Homo sapiens: one gene and its partners. The protein of the gene in region 2 purifies or fractionates together with the protein of the main gene of each other region. This does not show direct contact. Each region holds a gene or a part of one and is shown on either strand. Other genes may lie near its edges.

The links.
Region 1: the proteins of SLC34A2 (region 2) and TMEM63B purify together in Homo sapiens (affinity purification with mass spectrometry; 2 studies listed by BioGRID and IntAct, with this or other methods). This does not show direct contact.
Region 3: the proteins of SLC34A2 (region 2) and CACNA2D1 purify together in Homo sapiens (affinity purification with mass spectrometry; 2 studies listed by BioGRID and IntAct, with this or other methods). This does not show direct contact.
Region 4: the proteins of SLC34A2 (region 2) and SMPDL3B purify together in Homo sapiens (affinity purification with mass spectrometry; one large-scale study listed by BioGRID and IntAct). This does not show direct contact.

Annotation. Positions count from the first base shown.
Region 1 is NC_000006.12:44,134,054-44,137,553, forward strand, and holds part of TMEM63B (mechanosensitive cation channel TMEM63B), read left to right. Parts: intron 1-366; exon of another isoform or gene 367-507; coding exon of another isoform or gene 508-531; coding exon 532-690; intron 691-963; coding exon 964-1,043; intron 1,044-1,274; coding exon 1,275-1,313; intron 1,314-2,295; coding exon 2,296-2,386; intron 2,387-3,500. UniProt on the Homo sapiens protein: Mechanosensitive cation channel with low conductance and high activation threshold. Osmosensitive cation channel preferentially activated by hypotonic stress.
Region 2 is NC_000004.12:25,665,851-25,669,350, forward strand, and holds part of SLC34A2 (sodium-dependent phosphate transport protein 2B), read left to right. Parts: intron 1-277; coding exon 278-421; intron 422-2,029; coding exon 2,030-2,141; intron 2,142-3,500. UniProt on the Homo sapiens protein: Involved in actively transporting phosphate into cells via Na(+) cotransport.
Region 3 is NC_000007.14:81,948,361-81,950,777, reverse strand, and holds part of CACNA2D1 (voltage-dependent calcium channel subunit alpha-2/delta-1 isoform 1 preproprotein), read left to right. Parts: intron 1-269; coding exon 270-386; 3' UTR 387-2,417. UniProt on the Homo sapiens protein: The alpha-2/delta subunit of voltage-dependent calcium channels regulates calcium current density and activation/inactivation kinetics of the calcium channel. Plays an important role in excitation-contraction coupling.
Region 4 is NC_000001.11:27,941,500-27,944,999, reverse strand, and holds part of SMPDL3B (acid sphingomyelinase-like phosphodiesterase 3b isoform 1 precursor), read right to left. Parts: intron 2,726-3,500; coding exon of another isoform or gene 2,636-2,725; intron 1-2,635. UniProt on the Homo sapiens protein: Lipid-modulating phosphodiesterase. Active on the surface of macrophages and dendritic cells and strongly influences macrophage lipid composition and membrane fluidity. Acts as a negative regulator of Toll-like receptor signaling.

The DNA.
Region 1 (3,500 bases), on a different chromosome or scaffold from region 2:
ATGCCATTTTTTCTAATAGGCATAGAAAGAAAAGATCAGGATGAGGCAGCTGGCTCCTGACCCATTCTCCCCTGACGTGGAGACCCCTCATCTTACCCTTGAGTCCTCAGGCCTAAGACCCCTCCCTGTCTTCCCAGGCTCAGCTCCGCCCCCTGCCCTAAGACAGAGAGAATGAGAGTGTGGGGGTGGCGGCGGCAGGGGGGATTTAGATAGATGTTAGAAAATCACAGATACCTTCCAGCTTAATGAAACCAGCCTCCCCAGTCCAGGCCTGGCATCTAGACTGAGTTCCCCAGACCCAGGGTGGGGTCATAGCCAGAGAGCCAGTGAAGGTAAATCCATGTGACTCAACTCTCCCCTCCCTAGGCCCTTATCTCCAGAGGCCAGAGCTTCCATCCACCCAGGCAGCCTGGTGATCTGTCCTCACTGCCCCCTCCCCACGCCCACCCTACTGGGCCATGAAGGGGATGGGGGCAAGCCCAGCTGACTGCTCCACCCTCTGCCCAGGAGGACCATGCGGCAGTAGCAGCCATGCTGCCCTTTCTGCTGGCCACACTGGGCACCACAGCCCTCAACAACAGCAACCCCAAGGACTACTGCTACAGCGCCCGCATCCGCAGCACTGTCCTGCAGGGCCTGCCCTTTGGGGGCGTCCCCACCGTGCTGGCTCTCGACTTCATGTGCTTCCTTGTAAGTGCCTGCTGCCACCCCTTACCTTGGCATCCATGCCCTGTACACACCTGGCAAACACTTCCAGCTCTAACCACTCTCCCACCTGCCCCGGTTTCCCAGGCTTAAGCAGGAGGAGTCCCCATCATCCAGCCCAAGCCTCGCCTTTGACCATTCACCCAAGCCAGGGTCATCCCCTTCTAAGACAAGATTTTGGACCCTCTGCTTCTGCCCCCTAGTCCAGCAGGTGGACAGACAGCCTCTGCACTTGCCAACTGCCCCCTCTTCCCTCAGGCACTGCTGTTCTTATTCTCTATCCTCCGGAAGGTGGCCTGGGACTATGGGCGGCTGGCCTTGGTGACAGATGCAGACAGGTAAGGGTCTGGGACCCTCCCTCTAGCTCTCCACACACACATCTTGTTCCACACTCCTCAGGAATAGGAAGGAGCCAGCCCTCTCTCATTCCCCTTTGCTGGGGGGATGAGAAGGGACTAGCCCCAATGTGGGCATGGGGGCATGAGGGCCCTAAGTTGGGCCCCTGTTCCTCACCTGTCCCCAGGGACTCTCCCCCGCCCCTGCTAACCCTGTCTGTTCTCTGTCCCCAGGCTTCGGCGGCAGGAGAGGGACCGAGTGGAACAGGAATAGTATGTGGGGCACCAGCCCCCTCATTCCCACTAAACCAGCTTTCCCTTTTCTTCTCTCACGCTTCTCTTCTCTTCCTGCCAAGTTGCTGGTTTCTTTTTGCAGTTTTCTCCTCTGCAGGCTCATGTTTCGGATTAACGCAGGCGGTGTGCTTTGCAGAGCAGGGGGCTCCCCAGCTTGTCTCTGCCTCACCTCCCCTTCATCTCTCCCTCTGGCTCCCTGCCTGGGAGAAGTCCCTCCCTGTGTGCCCCTGCCTATGCAGCCCTTGTTGGCTGGAGGGGAGGGGCTGTCCTCCAGGAAATCCTCAGCACAATCACGTAGAGACAAGATTGGGTGTCACCAGCAGCTTCTTGTCCGCTAACAGCTAGTTCTTCATATTCCAGGGTTCCCTGCTCACCTCTTCTGGAGGCCTGGGAGGAGGGCTGCCCAAGGAGCCCCCCAGTCTGGGCTTTTTTGTCACTTTGTCATCTCTGTCTATAGGATTGGAGTTGGAGTTGTAACAGCTGTTGGAGTCAGGGAAGAGGGAGGGGAGCGGAGGGTAGGGTCCCACCCAGGAGACCTTCCAGTCTCCCCAGCCCTTCCAGGTTCTCCTGGTCCATCCTTTCCTCCACCTCCTCATTGCTCTTTGCATAATGTTGGCTCCGTTGCCCGCCCCCGGCCCCTGCCAGTCAACTCTGGAACTGCAGGGCCCTCTGGCATTCTCGCTTCAGCCTCCTTAGGGAGATGATGAAGATTACCTCCTCCCTCAAGTCCCCACTGCCCACCATCAGTGCCCACCTCCGCTCCCACCCTGAGTCCCCCTGAAAGGAAGAGGCATATTTGAGGGAAGCAGGGTAGAGGGCAGTCATTCCTCTCTGCTTCAGCCTCTGCGCTTCCTGTGCCTTCTGTGCCTTCTGTAGCCCTGGAGCTCTGGAGCACTCAGCCCAGCTTCCCGGGGGCTCAGACTCACCAGGCTCTCTGATCTCTCATCTCCCTCACCCCCAGTGTGGCTTCAGCTATGCACGGGGACAGCCATGACCGGTATGAGCGTCTCACCTCTGTCTCCAGCTCCGTTGACTTTGACCAAAGGGACAATGTGAGTGCCCTCCCCCCAAACTTCTTAGTCCCCCACCCCACCCCCAGGGCACATGGGCTGAGAAGTCCCTCACTTTCAGTGATGTGGAGTCAGGGATGCTGGTTTGGCCTCCTCCTCAGCAAAGAAAGTGATTCAACCAAGGAGCCACAGGATGACCCCCCAGGCCCTGAACTCCTGGCTGCTGTCCTCTATGTCACAGTCTCCAAACTAGCACAGCCTTAACATTCATGAATTCCCAACTTTGTTTGCCATAAAGAGTTTTGTGCCCACTTCTGCTGATTAATCCTAAGGCCACCTTTTTTCCGTAGTCATGGTTTTAGAAATAATAATAAGCCCTTGGCTCACGCCTGTAATCCCAGCACTTTGGGAGGCCGAGGCGGGAGGATCACGAGGTCACTAGATGAGACCATCCTGGCTAACACGGTGAAACCCCGTCTCTACTAAAAATACAAAAAATTAGCCAGGCGTGGTGGTGGGCGCCTGTAGTCCCAGCTACTTGGGAGGCTGAGGCAGGAGAATGGCGTGAACGCGGGAGGCGGAGCTTGCAGTGAGCTGAGATGGCGCCACTGCACTCTAGCCTGGGTGACAGAGCGAGACTCCATCTCAAAACAAACAAAAAAAAGAAATAATAAGCCCTCCAGCCCTGCCTAGAAAAACAGAATCTGTCATGTTGCTCGGAGGTTGCAGGTGGGTGGCCCCTGGCCATGTGGGGCCGGTTGACCTGCTTGTGGATTGGAGCTGAGTGGCAGTGGTCCCTTTTAACAAGGCATATGAATGGCAATTCATAACAGACTCCAGACCCCTTTCATATCAGACCTAACACACAGGTGTTACCTGCCTGGCTCTCCATCATTAATTCCATGAGGGTAAGGAGCCTAGTCAGAACTCTAATCCTCAGACATGGTGTGGCCCTGGTCAGTCCCTCTTGGGCTGCAAGTCCTAGGGGTGGCAGCTCTTCCAGCAATTCCAGCAGAAGATGGCCTTCAGCTTCCTGAGTTGGACTCATACTGGTAGGTGGCAAAGTTGTCACATCTGCTAGCCAGAAGTGTCCAGATGGTCCCCAGACTCAGGTGATGTTGGCAACAGGTAGCATGGTCCTGAATCACGGCCGAAA
Region 2 (3,500 bases):
CAAAAGTAACCAGGGGCTCACAGTGGGTCGGGAACCAGGGCAGAGAGACAGAGACAGGAGGCACGTGTGGGCAGCTAGTAGATTTCCTGCCTTATCGGGGCAGCACTGGGAAGAGGCATGGGGAAGCAAGATTCCTTGGGTGCCTGCAGCGATGGAGGCTGGACTCTGCAACCCACAGCCAGCTGGCCTTGGATGGAGACTTCTGTTTACTCAGTGCCCACCTAATCCCCCTCGATCACGTTGTGATTGTTTTTGTTTGTTTGTTTGTTTTTCCCAGGAAAAATGGCAGGACAGTTCTTCAGCAACAGCTCTATTATGTCCAACCCTTTGTTGGGGCTGGTGATCGGGGTGCTGGTGACCGTCTTGGTGCAGAGCTCCAGCACCTCAACGTCCATCGTTGTCAGCATGGTGTCCTCTTCATGTGAGTCGGGGCACCCATGAGCCCACCTGCATTCCAGACACTCTCCTGTCTATCTGAGGGTGGGAAGGACGGGGGAGGAATTCACTCTGAATATGTCCAGGCCTTGCCACCATTGTCTTGGTATCTTGCCCCAGCTACAATGTGTTTCCCTCTTGATCCAAGGCAACTTCCTGTTTCCATTTCGATGGCAGGATCTGGAAATAGACCCTGCTGCTGGAGTTCTCAGCTCTGAATTCTCTAGTACTGTACTTTCCAGACCTGTAGCCACTAGCCACATGTGGCAGTTTAATTTTGTTGAACCTTAATTGATTTAAAATTAAAATATAACATTCAGTTCCTCAGTTGTACTAGTTACATTTCAAGTGTTAAAGAGCCACATGTGGCTGGCTGGCAGCTACCCTATTGAGAAGTAGAGACATAGAACATTTCCTTCACTGCAGAAAGTTAGTTCTCTGGGACAGGGCCACTCTCAGTGCTAAGAAGAAAGACAACTTAATCACATCACAAATTGCTCTGGGACAACCGAGCTTGGGAGATGGCACACTAAACTTGTACCTGTCTGATAATTGCTGCAGCTACGTTGGACAGACCCTCTGAGGGGGACCAGTTTGAACTGATTATTATTATTTTTTTTTCTATTTTCTTTTTAAATAGAGACTTGGGTCTCACTGTGTTGCCCAGGCTGGTCTCAAACTTCTGGGCTCAAGTGATCCTCCCAAAATGCTGGGATTACAGGCCTGAGCCACAGCCCCTGACCAGAACTATTTTTCTTCCCAAGCTAGCATCTTAGCCAAAATTAACTAGAATGTTTCTCGTCCAGTTAGAAAAAGGTATTACACTTTCAAAATATTTTACTTGTTTATATCAAAAAAGGTGCAGCAATATGCTGATTTTGTTGGAAAAAGTTACACTGCCTAGAATTAAATGTCTGATATCCAGCACAGAAATGATGCTTCCTGGCTGGGCCTAGTGGCTCACGCCTATAATCCCAGCACTCTGGGAGGCTGAGGTGGGAGGCTCACCTGAGGTTGGGAATCTGAGACCAGCCTGACCAACACGGTGAAACCCCGTCTCTACTAAAAATACAAAAATTAGCTGGATGTGGTGGTGCATGCCTCCAGTCTCAGCTACTCAGGAGGCTGAGGCAAGAGAATCACTTTAACCTGGGAGGTAGAGGTTGCAGTGAGCTGAGATCGAGCCACTGCTCTCCAGCCTGGGAGACAGAGCGAGATCCATCTCAAAAAATAAAAATAAAAAAGAAAAGAAAAAAAACTGATGCTTCCTTAAAGGCGAGCCTGTGTGCCATGCACAACTGACTCAACTGTACATGCAAGCCCTGCACTCATCCACCTAAGTCCTTAATCAGTGGGTGCCTCCTGGTCTCCTTCAGGCTAGCCTTGGATCTGCAATAGGGAGGAAGGAGGAAGCTAGAAAGGCACTTTCTTCAGATTCATAGTGAGGTGCAGAGTGAGGTGCAAAAAAAAAGTTTAAGAATTCACTTGCATAGAGGATAAAAACTACTTCTTTAGAGGATACCAGCATAGGTAACTTTAGCCTGCCTCCAGGCTGCCTTTCTAAGCTTGCTAATGGTACTTTTCCATCCTCTAGTGCTCACTGTTCGGGCTGCCATCCCCATTATCATGGGGGCCAACATTGGAACGTCAATCACCAACACTATTGTTGCGCTCATGCAGGTGGGAGATCGGAGTGAGTTCAGAAGGTAAGAGGCTCAAAACCAGCCTTTGCGACATCAGCTCTATTGTTCTTGGCCACGCTGTTGTAACTGCTTTTAACCAGCCAAAGATGACATGCTTATCAGGTTCATTCCTGGAGTTCCTAGAAGTAACCACAGGGAGGTATGGCTAGGGTTGGATCACATACTCACCAGCTGATTAGACTCAGCTCCCTGATCGGCAGAGCAGGGATAATACTATCTATCACTACTGAGTTGTTGTAGGATTAAATATACAACCCAGCAGGTGAGTGTTCAGAGCACCCAGCACATTGAGTTCACTAAATAAATGCAAACTCTAGCTAGAAACTTAGCCGCTGGGTGGCGGAATTGAAGCAAGGCCAGTTAGAAGAGTAGGATTTATTGGGACTGGGCGTGGTGGCTCATGCCTGTAATCCCAGCACTCTGGGAGGCCCAGGCGGGTGGATCGCCTGAGGTCAGGAGCCTGGCCAACATGGTGAAACCCCATCTCTTCTAAAAATACAAAAATTAGCCGGCCGTGGTTGCCAGCGTCTGTAATCCCAGCTACTCTGGAGGCTGAGGCAGGAGAATCGCTTGAACCCGGGAGGCGGAGGTTGCAGTGAGTCGAGATCGTGCCACTGCACTCCAGCCTGGGTGACAGAGTGAGACTCCATCTAAAAAAAAAAAAAAAAATAAATAAATACTGTTTTGTTTGGTCATAATTATAACTTATTTAAACTTCCACTTTCGGTCAGCTCAACCCATGCCACCTTTTCTTTGTTCTTCACTTACAAGTTAATAAAAAACAAAACCTAGTTTCTGCGTATGCAGAAACTCTGAAACTAGAGCAGGTAGAATGCTGGAAACTCTTTTCTTTCAAAAAGGTTAATGTGAAAATTAAGTGTTTCTTAGCCTCTTCTAGCTAGTTTTTTTTTTTTTTCAGTTTTTTTTTAAAAGGTAAGCTGTTTCATTGAAGACATAAAAATCCAGAACAGAGTTTTTTAAATCTGGAGATAAGATGGAATCGAGGAGGAATCTTTGAACCTCCTCAGATGGATGCAAAATGTTTTAGCCTTGTTTCCCATGGAAACTATTCATGTTTCATCACTTTCAAGAACTTAAAAAAAGTTTAAGAATTCACTTGCATAGAGGTCTTTTTAAGTTAAATTTTTTTATTGATACAAAATATTTTTACACCTTTCTGGGAAACATGTGATATTTTGTTACATTCATAGAATGTGTAGTGATCAAATCAGGGTATTTGAGGTGCCCACCGCTTTGGGGATTTATGATTTCTATGTGTTTGGAACAATTGAAAACTCCAGCATAGAGGGCTTTGGTTGCCTTCATACTGGTCCCCACCTTTCCAAAAGAAGGTAGCCTTCA
Region 3 (2,417 bases), on a different chromosome or scaffold from region 2:
ATTATTCAAACAGCATTTATTATTTTCTTTCATAATCATCAAAAGCTACAACTAAAAATTTAAAGCATTTGTCAAATGATGCTAGGGAAATTCCTCAATGATAAAATCTAGGAGAAAGTAATTTCTTTGGATTTCAATTACAGCAGTTTTATAAGGTAAGTTCAGAAAGTGAACTAAATATGGATTACTCTGAAAGATGTGTTACTAAATATTTTTCAAGATTTTTAGATTTTTCTTTTTCTGTTCTTTTCTTTTTTTTTTAACAACAGGAGGATTATACTGACTGTGGTGGTGTTTCTGGATTAAATCCCTCCCTGTGGTATATCATTGGAATCCAGTTTCTACTACTTTGGCTGGTATCTGGCAGCACACACCGCCTGTTATGACCTTCTAAAAACCAAATCTGCATAGTTAAACTCCAGACCCTGCCAAAACATGAGCCCTGCCCTCAATTACAGTAACGTAGGGTCAGCTATAAAATCAGACAAACATTAGCTGGGCCTGTTCCATGGCATAACACTAAGGCGCAGACTCCTAAGGCACCCACTGGCTGCATGTCAGGGTGTCAGATCCTTAAACGTGTGTGAATGCTGCATCATCTATGTGTAACATCAAAGCAAAATCCTATACGTGTCCTCTATTGGAAAATTTGGGAGTTTGTTGTTGCATTGTTGGTGATTACATGTGAAAGGGTTCCCCATACAATTGTTAATGAACCATAAGAAATGTCTTGATATTGACCTGGAATTTTGACTTGCTGCAATTTTACTAAGAAAATCTCTAAGGGGAAAGAAATTATTTTTGCCTTCACTTTTTCTTCTGTGAAAAGTTAATTCCTGCTTTAAGTAGCAATTATTGAAATATATAGAGAAAGAGAGAATTAACATTGGTCTAAATTGTTGAAATATAAATAATGGCTAATTTTCTATGAAAAATTTGCCATGAATAAAATGCCTTATGAAGAACGGCTTCTTTGCCAAAAATAAAACACAATTGATGACCAATTCAATTTTGATGGGGTAATGAATTGATGGTTTGAAAATAGTAACTAAGAAATTATTAAACTAAAGGTGCTTGAGGGAGAAATTAGAATATGTGACATATTTCCTCATAAATGTAAGCAAGCCCTTAATAAATGCTTTGATGTAATGTTCCTTTTGTTCACAGTACAGTTATGTAGTGCTAGCCAGATATTTAAAAATGCTCTAAGAAAAGCTTGTCAGGGGGGAGGGGGAAATGTTTTTCTTGTGATAAATGAACTTTGGTTTACCAAGGGTATTTTGCATGATGCTGCTGCTATTTTAACTTTTCAGTTGTTTTTTCTCTTACTGTAGAGTGTAGTCATTGAAAAGTTAACTGAGTGATATTGTTATGTAAGAATCTGAACCTTGCAGTGTAAATGCACTTAAGTCATCTTTAAAATGTTGTTAAACTACTCTGAATATACTGTGCAATGTAAATGCTGAATGATTGGGGTTAGATAAATGGTGAAATGAGAATTAATGAATTTTATACAGATTCATGCTTTCGCCTGATAACCTATGTACAGATATTTTAAGTACATAAATCAGATTTGACACATTTATTTTTTGAAAAGTACATATATGTTCTCAATGAAGATTCATCCTAGGTTTCCTCTTTGTTCGTTTCAATAGTAGCACATACAATCCAAAAGTTCCTGCTACTGCTGCTTTTGCCCTTCCATTTTAAATGGTATGATCGTTTGGCCAAAATTTCCATGCAAGTTGATAAGGGTTTTACAATAATCTGAACAAATAGGAAACCTTGAATCTCTATGTATGCACATGAATACTTGATTGTGAATAATAAAAGTTGTTTTTTATACAGCCTCATTGGTGAAAATGGTTAGTGTAGTAAATCAGATATTTCATTATAGACTAATATGGTAGCAGATTATTTATGCTTTTAAAAATTATTTTCTGGAGCAAACAGTATTTGAAGAAAAGGTAAAAACTATGAATGTGTAATTCTAAGAATAGTTAATAATTTTACTGAAGGCTGAACGTATGTAGATATTTTTTATGATAAAATGCAGTTTTTCTTTTTTTGGAACATGCCAATTACTGGTATGTGTATATGCTGGAAATTTTCTTACATATCCTTTTTAAGTCAAAGTTATTAACATTATCCAGCATGCTTTAATATGCTCCACATATCAAAGATATAACCAATAATTTAACGTAGCTTAAAAGATAACATTTGTTTTGTTTTTAGCTTTGCATACATTTGTAATTCCCTCCCACCACCAATATACCTTAGGTACCATTTGTGTACATTTCAAGATTTTTTTTTTCAATAAAAAGGTGGGGGGAAATGGAATCACTTTGCCAACTATTGTTCTAAGAGTTGACATCAGTTACCATTTCTAATGCATTGTTGTGATTTTGTAGTGTCAT
Region 4 (3,500 bases), on a different chromosome or scaffold from region 2:
CCCCGTCCTCCTCCCCACATTGGATGGGCAGCCACAACATTAGAGCTCAGGCATTCTAATGAGGGGGCTTGTTTTAAAGCAAAGGCGGGAGAGGGTATGGGTTAAGTGCTCAGGCTCTGAGCCACTTAGGAGCTGTGTGACCTGGGCTATGTCACTTTTCTAAGCCCATTAACTAGAGCCATATCCTCTCATGCTGCAGGGAAATATAACTACATATGAAAATCTGACCTGTCCTGGAATTTCTTGGAAAATTAAAAAAAAAAAAAAAGAAAAAAGTCTGACCTGGATGGAAAAGGCTTACACACCAAATGAGCTGGAAAACCTTGCTAAGCAATACCAGCAAAGCCCGGGTGCAGTGGTTCATGCCTGTAATCCCAGTACTTTGGGAGGCCAAGGTAAGATGATTCTTTGAGGCCAGGAGTTCAAGACCAGCCTGGGCTACATAGGCGGACCTCATCTCTACACAAAATTTAGAAAATTCGTCGGGTGTGGGGTCATGTACCTGTGGTCCCAGCTACTCAGGAGGCTAAGGTGAGAGGATCGCCTGAGCCCAGGAGGTGGAGGCTGCAGTGAGCCATGATCATGCCACTGCACTGCAGCCTGGGTGACAGAGCAAGACTCTGTCTCCAAAACAAAACAAAACAAAAACAGCAAAAACCTGGGGACTACATGTGGAAGTGAGTATAAGAGTACTAGACCAGGGAAAAAGGAACGCCACTTCAGATCGGGCTGACCTCCTCTGGTAGGTATATTTGCTGGTGATTCTGGATCCAAGGTGTGGCTCAAGCAGCTGGGAGTGGTCCTGCTTGCTGAGGTGATTGACCGAAACCTAGACTCAGTTTCCGACCAAAGGAGGCTGAAGTGGCAAAAAACTTCACAGTGTAATAAAGAGAAAGGAATCCAAAGAAACAGGTGAGATGGAGTAGACTTCTCATGCGAACCCAACACGGCCTGGCACAGTAGTTTCTTTTTTTTTTTTTTTTTTTTGAGACAGAGTTTCGCTCTGTGCCCAAGCTGGAGTGCAATGGTGCAATCTCGGCTCACTGCAACCTCTGCCTCCTGGGTTCAAGTGATTCTCTGGCCTCAGCCTCCCAAGCAGCTGGGATTACAGTCATGCGCCACCACGCCCAGCTAATTTTTTTTTTTTTGTATTTGTATTTTTAGTAGAAATGGGGTTTCGCCATGTTAGCCAGGCTGGTCTCAAACTCCTTGACCTCAGGTGATCCGCCCGCCTCAGCTTCCCAAAGTGCTGGCATTACAGGCGTGAGCCACCGCACCTGGCCAGCACAAGTTGTTTCAATGACTGCTTACTGAAGGAGGGTTGAGCAGATCTGGCCTCTGTTCATCCTGTTTCTCGATAAAACAAGAATGACGCCCAGGATTTCCTCACCCTCTGCTATTGCAATCACTTCCTCCCCCATTTCTTGTGTCACCTAGAGCCACAAGTCAACATCACTGGCCCCAAGAAGCTGTGTCTGGGCCTGGGAGACTGGACTTCTTTTGATCTCAGGGTTGGATAGCCAGGGCCCCACCCAGGCCACAGGACATTCAGTGGACAGCCTGCAGATAAAGGCTGGCCCCTGACCCTCACTCCTTGACTTTCCCTCCCAGATGCTCTTGAGCTTTTCCCCACCTCTCCTGATCTAAACAGTCTCAGGAAAGGATGTGAAACACATTCATACTAAAGTGTAAATGGCTGATTAAGCAAATCATTATCCCTCCCACATGCATTGTTACAGTGTTCTCCGCAGAGCCCTGGGAACATTATCCCACTTTACAGATAAGGAAACTAAGGTCTGGAGGTCAACATGCCTAAGATCACATGGTAAATGATGGGGATCTCTGGGCTCCAATCCCTCCCAGGAAGATGTGATTGTGAAAGGGGTTAAAAACCAGTGCCTTTCTATTTTAGATGGGTCTTTTTGTTGACAGCATATTCCCACATTTTTATTTTTTATCCAAACTGAGCCTTTGTTTATAATGGGGAAAATTTAACCTTTCCACACATATTGTGATCACTAATATATTCCTGCCAGGCATGGTGGCACAGTGGCTCACACCTGTAATCTCAGCACTTTGGGAGGTTAAGGCAGGAAGATTGCTTGAGGCCAGGAGTTCAAGACTAGCAGGGGCAACAAAGCAAGACTTCGTCTCTACAGAAAATAAAATTCAGCCAGGCACAGTGGCTCACGCCTGTAATCCCAGCTACTCAGGAGGCTGAGGCAGGAGAATTGCTTGAACCCAGGAGGCGGAGGTTGCAGTGAGCCGAGATTGTGCCACTGCACTCCAGCCTGGCGACAGAGCGAGACTCCATCTCAAAAAAAAACACAACAACAAAAAACAAAAAAATAGCCAGGCATGGTGGTACACTCTTTTAATCCCAGCTACAGCTACTTGGGAAGCTGAGGCAGGAGAATCGCTTGAACCCAGGAGGCGGAGGTTGCAGTGAGCCGAGATTGCACCACTGCACTCCTGCCTGTGCGACACAGCAAGACTGTCTCAAAAAAATTAAAAAGAATACAGTGACAAAACCCCAAGCCAGAGTAAAGGAATGAACTGCCTCATACCAGTTAGTTGGTGGGCAGAGTTGCTGGGCATCCCAAGTCCCTGAGCTGAGACCGTGAGTGGCTCTCACCTGCTTCCAAGCCCGGAGCCAGGCTGGCCAGGATGGATGTTGGGGGAGGCCCTTTGCCTTTCTCTTGGGCACATGGTCCTTGCGCTTCCTCTGCAGACAGAGAAAGAGGCTATTCCCCTGCCTCAAGCTGGCTCTTTCTCAGTTAACTACAAACACTGAGCAGTTTGGCCCCTTTGACGTCAGCCCTCAAAGTATTCAGGAACATTTCTCCACTCCAGAAACTCCTCATCTCACCTGTCAGTTGTCGTTTTCCAGCCAGTGTGTAGAACTGAAACTACTTTCCAGCCTCTCTGGCACATACTGCTGAAGGGTGTGTGTACATGCATGTGTGTTTATGTGTGTGTGCGTGTGTGTCTGTGTGTGTGCATGTGTGTGTGCTGACTCCAGGAGAGGCCAGGCTAGTGGACAGAATGGTGGAGAGAGCCAGAGGTCCAGGCGGGCAGCTCCACCTCCTTGGGGTCCAGGTGGGCAGCTCCAACTCCTTGGGGTCCAGCCTCCTCATTGTGGGAGTGCAGATCCCAGCGACCTTGTCAGCTCAGCCCAACCCACCACCCTCAGCCAAGCTGCTTCTCCTCACAGGGCCTCTTCCCTGACTACGCCATGGCCTCGCCCAATCTTCCCACATCATCATGCGGCTGCCTCCTCCTCATTCAGGCCTCTGCCCCAAGGTCACCTCCTCAGAAGACTCCCCTGACCACCTCATCTCAAGTGCCACCTCTCCTGCCTGTCTGGTCGCTATTTCTTCCCCAGCTTCCTTTTTCTCAGAGCACTATCACATGTGAACTTACCTTGTTGGCTTGCTTATTGTCCATCTTCCCTGTTTACAATGTCAGTTCCATGAGAGCACCAAGCCCGTCTTGTTTAC